2 linked regions of the Homo sapiens genome follow. The protein of the gene in region 2 interacts with the protein of the main gene of each other region in a pairwise test. Each region holds a gene or a part of one and is shown on either strand. Other genes may lie near its edges.

What was found.
Region 1: the proteins of TCP11L2 (region 2) and CASS4 interact in a two-hybrid assay, tested with the Homo sapiens proteins (one large-scale study listed by IntAct).

What each region holds. Positions count from the first base shown.
Region 1 is NC_000020.11:56,450,115-56,453,934, reverse strand, and holds part of CASS4 (cas scaffolding protein family member 4), read right to left. Parts: intron 3,337-3,820; coding exon 3,256-3,336; intron 2,117-3,255; coding exon 806-2,116; intron 1-805. UniProt on the Homo sapiens protein: Docking protein that plays a role in tyrosine kinase-based signaling related to cell adhesion and cell spreading. Regulates PTK2/FAK1 activity, focal adhesion integrity, and cell spreading.
Region 2 is NC_000012.12:106,333,556-106,337,375, reverse strand, and holds part of TCP11L2 (T-complex protein 11-like protein 2), read right to left. Parts: intron 1,738-3,820; coding exon 1,550-1,737; intron 1,345-1,549; coding exon 1,163-1,344; intron 1-1,162. UniProt on the Homo sapiens protein: Promotes the migration of muscle-derived satellite cells (MDSCs) during differentiation throught interaction with FMNL2 and therefore may participate in microfilament assembly.

The sequences.
Region 1 (3,820 bases), on a different chromosome or scaffold from region 2:
TGCTGGGTTTACAGGAGTGAGCCACTATATCCCAACTCTTTTTTTTCTTTTCTTTTTTTTAGAGATTAGCTCTTGCTCTGTCACCAAGGCTGGAGTGCAGTGGCACCATCATAGCTCTCTGCAACCCCAAACTCCTGGTCTCAAGGGATACCCCCACTCAGACTCCCAAGTGCATGAGCCACTACACCTGGATATTTAAAAATAAATTTTGTACAGCTGGGGTCTCACTATGTTGCCCAGCCTGGTCTCAAACTCCTGCCTCAAGGGATCCTCCTGCGTTGGCCTCCCAAAGCGTTGGAATTACAGGCATAAGCCACCAGGCCCAGCCTCAGAAAAGTATTTCTAAGAGTAGCTGAAGTCTGGGGGCTGATCAGACCATGGGCAATTTGAAAGAATGTTTCTACTTCCTCTTTCGTTGCTAAGAAACACACTGAGAATGACTAAATTTATAACTTTCAAAAATGCAAGGAGACTTGGTGGTGAGGTTTTAAAAATCTACTCAAATAATAAATTTTTAAGAAATTTAAAAATCCCTTTTAATTCTAATATGGTAAACTTGAACGCCAAAAGTTTTCGGAAGAAATCCAAATCAACTGACCTATCTGCCTATGCTGACCTATCTTTATCTGACTTGTTAATAAGATTTCATCAAGAATTTTACTTTCATAAATTTTATTTTCTAGAAAATGGAACCAGTGTCTCCCCAAAGCCTATACACTATGGAAAGAGTCTCAGCATCTTAGTAGCCACTACTCCAGGTAACAATTGAAGCCCCTTTTTCGATCACTTGGAACTCTGAACTCACCTGTCCACAGATATTTGCCCTATTTTTCTTTAATAGTTCAGAAGAGTGTTCATCTTCCCTTTGCTTAGTGGAAGGGGTACTCTTTTGGTGTGATTCAGTTTCTCTTTGGGGAGGCTGGATGTATTTTTCACACTTAAATTCTGCATTTGGGGTCAACTGCACAGTCTCTTCCTTTTCACAGTTCCGCTTAAAAAGGAGCCTTCCATTGGCAATGACAATGGAGGCAAACCTCTTGATGTCTTCTGGAAGCATCCGTGCCACCATGACAAACCTCTCAAGGTCATCTGGGCTGTTCTGGACACTGTCAGTCACAAGAACTTCCAGAGGCCAATTGCGATTATCCAAGCTTTCCTTTGTTTCAAGCAGGATGCGGTAGGAGTTGGAGATGGTCTGCATCTGGTCCCGAATTCTGTTCTGAAGGTTACTGTCAGTGAGGTTACAGGCAGTCCCATGGACTCCTCGGGCAAAATCCAGAAATTCTCTTACAGATTCTTCTATGTGATCAGTGGACCTGTGGATTGCATCAATGTTGGCCTCCAGATAGTCTCGGAATCTCCACTTCCTGCTGACAAAGAGCATCAGGCCAGCGACAGAGCTGACCACCTTGTGCTGCAGAGCCATCACTGTCTCCTTGGCCACATCCAGGTCCAAGGAGAGCTCCTTTGCTGACTCCTCCGAGGAAGAGCTGGAGGAGTCGTCGGTGGATGTGGTGGAGCACGAGGAAACGATGCTAGCTCTGCTGTCAGAACTGGAACCTGATAATCTGTCCGGTTCAGGAGATGGGGAAGTTGTCCGTCTGGAGAACCATGAGGAATTATGGCCCGCGGAATTCTCTGACACCTCCTTGGCTTTCTCCAGCTCCTTCCCAGCCTGAGAAACACTCGACGTTGCTTTAGGGATGTCATAAATATTGGGCTTGGTGTTCTGCTGTTCCACTCGGGGAATCAGAAAGCTTGAAGGAACCTTGTAGCTGACATCTTCATCCAAAGGAAATGTGCCTCTGGGTACAAGAAAGCCATAAGAAGGAATTTCTGGAAGGCTGAGTTTTTTCTGCATGGGCACATTGTTATTCAGTTGTGGAGTGAGGGACCTGGATCTGCCACTTGGAGGATTGTAGAAAGTGGAGCTGGAACTGGGGAGAGCGTGGGGCCTTGATTCTTCCGCAAAGCTGGTGAGAGGCGTGTTTCTGACGCTGGCCTTTCCTGGAGACACTGGAGTGTCATAAATCCATTCCGATTTCTGAGGATTTGGTAATGTGCTGTAACCGCCTCTTCTTAAGGTAGTCACTGATATCAGGGGAACACCCTGCCCCTGTGGGAGAACCACACATAGTTGCCGGGTTAGTAGCTTTCCAAAGAGGGCGCGAGTGCGTTGTTTAAATCTCATCGTCACTCCGCCGCTCCTTCAGTGGCTCCCCATTTCTGTTACCACTCAAGGTCCTTCAGGATTCTTTTGAGCCTCATTTCTTTCGACTTCCACCACGCTGACCCCACCTGGTCTGCCACCATCTGCTTACAGGTCCAGCCACCCAAGCTGTTTACTTTCCCCTGAACTCAGAACACTGACTCATGCCAGTGTATTTAATTTTACCCAAACTGGTTTCTCTGCTCTAAATGCCCTTGGCAACCCTTTCTTTTCCATCCACCAAACCCCTATGCATCCCCCTGACACGGCGAAATGCCAGCCTTCTTGTAAGATGTTCCCTAATGACCTTGGGTGTAAGTGTGTCTGTGGGACACATGTGGTAGAATCCAATTATAAACATAGATTACACAGATTTCAGATAAAGTCCTTTGCCCAACACAGATAAAAGTGTACTGTATCACAGCACGCCCCTGAGGTCTGTCGTAAGAAGAAGCCATTACATAATTTCACACCATGCCAGGCACTGTCCCGGGTCCTTTGCAGGATTATCTCACTTAATACTCCCAGCCCATAAAAACAGAGAAGTTAAACGACTTATCCCAACCACGTAATTAGTCCTATTCCTGAACACAAGTGCAATGAGAGGTTTTACCTCAAATGCAACAAGGTCTCTGTTATGAGGAATTTGCATTCTAATTTTTGACCAAGCTAATAACATTTCTTTCTTTCTTTTTTTTTTTTTTTAATTTTTGTATTTTATTAGAGACAGGGTTACACCATGTTGGGCAGACTGGTCTTGAACTCCTGACCTCAAGTGATCTGCCCACCTCAGCCTCCCAAAGTGCTGGGATTACAGGCGCCCACTACCACACCCAGCCAATATTTGTATTTTTAGTAGAGATGGGGTTTTGCCATGTTGGCCAGGCTGGTCTTGAACTCCCAACCTCAGGTGATGCACTCACCTCGGCCTCTCAAAGTGCTGGGATTACAGGCTTCAGCCACCGTGCCTGGCCCCAAGCTAATAACATTTCTGAGAGGATTTTGTGTGTTCATAACACCGCACCTTAGCACCTCTTCATACTTACACTTGCTTGGCTGTCTGGGGGATGGAGTCCTGCCTTCTTGGGGCTGGCTGGTATGTCATATAACTGCTGCTTCTCTGGCTCCTGGGGAAAGACCACAAAGGCAGACAACTTGAATGTTTCTTTCCTAATGGCTACACATCACGAACACTCCCTATTCCAGTGTTTTTTTCCAAAGGAAGACACAAATTCCTGAAGACTTTTCGGTGCTTTTGGTCATGATGCTGTAATGGTAGAAATCTGGGTGACAGGTCTCCCGCCTTCCTTGTCTGAGGCAACGCAGGGGACATCACAGTCCTTTTTCCCATAACAGGGTATACATTCAACAATGGACTTTGTGCTTTAAAAAGAGACTTCTCAGCCGGGCGTGGTGGCTCACGCCTGTAATCCCAACACTTGGGGAGGCTGAGGCAGGAGGATCACCTGAGGTCGGGAGTTCGAGACCAGCCTGGCCAACATGGAGAACTCTATTAAAAATACAAAATTAGCCTGGTATGGTGGCGCATGACTGTAATCCCAGCTACTCGGGAGGCTGAGGCAGGAGAATCTCTTGAACCTGGGAGGTGGA
Region 2 (3,820 bases):
CCCTTTTCTGTTTGCAGCCCAAGGCAAATTCTATTCTATCTGTAAGCTTCAGTTCAAAATGAGAAGTTGGATTCTGTAACTACATGGGCTCCTTTTGGCTCTTAATAGTCTAGGATTTCATCAAGTAATTTATATGCTCTCTGAATAATAGGTGGGAGGATGAGAAGACAGGTGCATTTCCCTTCAATTACAGGAATAAAGAGGACATGCCTCTGAAGACACCTGAAAGGGGAACCAGCAGAAGCTGATCCATAAGAGACCCATAGAACCATCTGGCCATTCACCAAGACTAAGAATTTCTGACTTAGATAGGAATTCCTATTGGATGATGTAAATGCAAAATCTAAATGGGATTCTAGCATTCATGAAGGTGTAATACTGGAGATAAATTTAGCAAAAACCAAAATCTTCACTGGACTGTGTCACATCTCTGAAGGGCAGAATTGTCAGCACTTCTGAAGACTTCGTAGCAAGGTGGATTTGTGAAGTCAGTAAACATTTCACTGCAGAAAAATGATGAAGTCAGAACAACTGGAGGAAAGCCCTCTTCAATAGCACAATTCTAGGGAGGCCGAGATGGGTGAGTCATGAGGTCAAGAGATCGAGACCATCCTGGCCAACATGGTGAAACCCGGTCTCTACTAAAAATACAAAAATTAGCTGGGCGTGGCGGCGCATGCCTGTAGTCCCAGCTACTTGGGAGGCTGAGGCAGAAGAATTGCTTGAACCCGGGAGGCGGAGGTTGCAGTGAGCTGAGATTGCGCCACTGCACTCCAGCCTGGTGACAGAGCGAGATTCTGTCTCAAAAAAAAAAAAAAAAAAAAAAAATTGCGCAATTCTAAACATCAAGCTTGGCAGATTTCTGTGTTTCATTTGTTTTTTTCCAAAGCACTGTCAAAGAAAAGCTGTTGTACACATTCATTGTAAGTGGAAATACTACACTCACCCTGGCACTTGTCATGGAAAACACCTCTCCCTTCCTATGAGAGGACATCTAAGCCTTCAGAGATATTAAAGGAAATTCTAGAAAAAGGTGTAAGATAAGCTTCTCTAAAGCACAGTCCTGAATCTCACATCCAGATGTCCAAGGTCATTCTTGTTCTCTGAGACACATGCAGAGCCTTAATACAAGAGGGAGCAGATGCAAAAATTTGGAACTTACTCTTTGTTCATGCCTTCAAGTAGAACAGCTGAAATCCTTGTTAACCTGCTTGCAAGCTCAGGCAGGCCTCCTGTAATAGCACCCACCATGTTGTTGGTAATTAGGGACAGGCAGGCAATAATTTTCAATTGATTCAGCTTTTCTGTTAGTTCCTGAAGACGTGCTCCATCTGTCATAAGTGTCTAACATATTTATTTAAAATATAAAAATAGAAAGGGTAGCTCAATAGCATGAAAATACAAAACAGGCAATGTCATTTCCAAATTCCCATTTTTATCTGATTTTTGTAAAGTCATTAAACCACATGAAACACAGACCAGATGATTCAAAGTTAGAACTTAAGAATAAAAATACTGGGAAATTTGGGTGAAGAACAAAACCACTCACCTCTGGTAATTCTTTTTTCTGATAATCCCACTGTAACAGTTTCAAGTAACTATTATTTAGCACCAAAGTAGGGCTCAGGCTTGGCTTGGAGGTATTTTCGGCCCCAGGAGTTAAAGCACTCTCAGAAAGAGAAAATAATTCTTCATTTACAGATTCTTTTATCCATTCTGTAGTCTGATCAAGAGCACCTAAGAGTGAAAAGGCCACATATTTGTTCTACAGCTGATTGATCCCTTCACTGGTGTATTCCACTTGACAGATGCTGTGTTGGGTGCTGGGCATGAATGAGAAGACACAGCCATGCCCTGCAAGGAGTTTACAGTCCAGATGGAAAGGCAGACCTGTAAACTAACAATTATAACAGAGTACAATGAATGCTAGTAATTGTGGGAAAGAGGCTGTCCAGGAAAGAATCTAAGAGGAAGAGCTCTGTAAGTGCTCTGGAAAAGACAGCATATGGCACATTCTAGATGTCACATTCTGGATGCCACAAACAAATCTGTATTGCTGGTCCATAAAGAACTAGGGGTAAGAGGGTTGTAGCAAATGGCATTGGATGGGTGGTTAGAAGCCAGCCTTGAGTTTGTGCAGAGAAGGTATTTAGAGAAAAGGCATTAATTTTCACACATTTTTGGTAAAAGGTGAAAGATTTATACAATCTGAAGAGAAAATAGAGTATAATTATTACACATTTTTGGGTCTTGGACCACTTTTAATAACTAATTGGAGATATGCCTTTCCCAAAGTGAATGTGCACAATCACGTGCACATGTCCACAAACAATTGTCATTCTCTCTTACCAGATTGACAGTCCCCAGGTTACAAACACCAGCGATGGGAATGGGGAGTTTTGAATAATATTATTTTCTTTCTTTTCTTTTTTTTTAAGACGGGGTCTCACTCTGTCACCCAGGCTGGAGTGCAGTGGGGCAATCTCAGCTCACTGCAACCTCCACCTCCCATGTTCAAGCGATTCTCCTGCCTCAGCCTCCTGAGTAGCTGGGACTACAGGCGTGCACCACCACACCCAGATAATTTTTGTATTTTTAGTAGAGATGGGGTTTCACCATGTTGGCCAGGATGGTCTCAATCTCCTGACCTCATGATCCACCCACCTTGGCCCCCAAAAGTGTTGGGATTACAGGCGTGAGCCACTGCGCCCGGCTGAATAATATTATTTTCAACATGGAACCTGTATGATCAGATATGTATGTCAGAAAAATTGCTTGGAAAGAAAGACTGAATTAGTGGAGGGAGAGTAAATTATTGCAGTGGTTCAAACAAGAGAGTGAATGGATAAGGGCAGTGGAAGTGAGGGGTAAAGAGGGAAAAAGTGAGAAATATTTAGGGGGAGTACCCACAGGTCTTGGTGACCACTTACATGTAGAGAATAGGAAAGGAGTATTCTAGGATGACTCCCAGATTTGCACCTTGGACATCTGAATGAATGCCTGTGCCATCTACCAAGATACAGAATATAGGCTAGAGAGGTTCTGAAATAAATCCTTCCCATAACCTTTCTAAGGCCACCACCTGGTTGTCAAATCCAACAAACATGTCCTTCCTACCTTTTTTAAACATCTCTGTAATACAGACATCTCTTAGTACAGCCCTCCAGAAACTCTTTCCCTGGCTTTTCTGACACCACTTTTTCCTGGTTTCCCCTAGCTGTGCTTCTGCATCTCATACTTGGGTTGAGAAGACAGGTGCATCTCCCTTCAATTACAGGAAGATGTTCCTCTGCCTGTTCATTAAATGTTGATACTTCCAAGCACTCTACCCAATCCCCACTGATTTGGTACTCTTCAATCTCACTAGACCATCTTACTCATTCCTGTGGTTTCTATTTCCGCCCATACCCCATAAGGCTCCTAAATCTGTATCTATAGCCCTCACTTCTCTCCTGAGCTTTTGATTTCCTCATTTGTAGAACGAGCAAGTGGGAGGAGAGTCATTAAATATGAAGTTGAGCAGAGATGCCCAGTACAGAACACTGCTACATAGTGTTTCCATCATCCAGATATAACAGGTACTTTATACCTGTTATATGTACAGTCTTGAGATTCTTTAATGTCAAGACTATAGACAATAGTAAGATAATTTGGAAGTGAAGCGTTTTTAGTATTTGTTTACCTTTACTTTTTATAATTATTTTGTTTTTTTCACATATATAAATATGTTTATATTTACAGACATAATAAATTCATACAATAAAATGTTCAGCTCTTAAGTGTTCAGTTTGGTGAGTTTTGGCTATTCTATATACCTGTG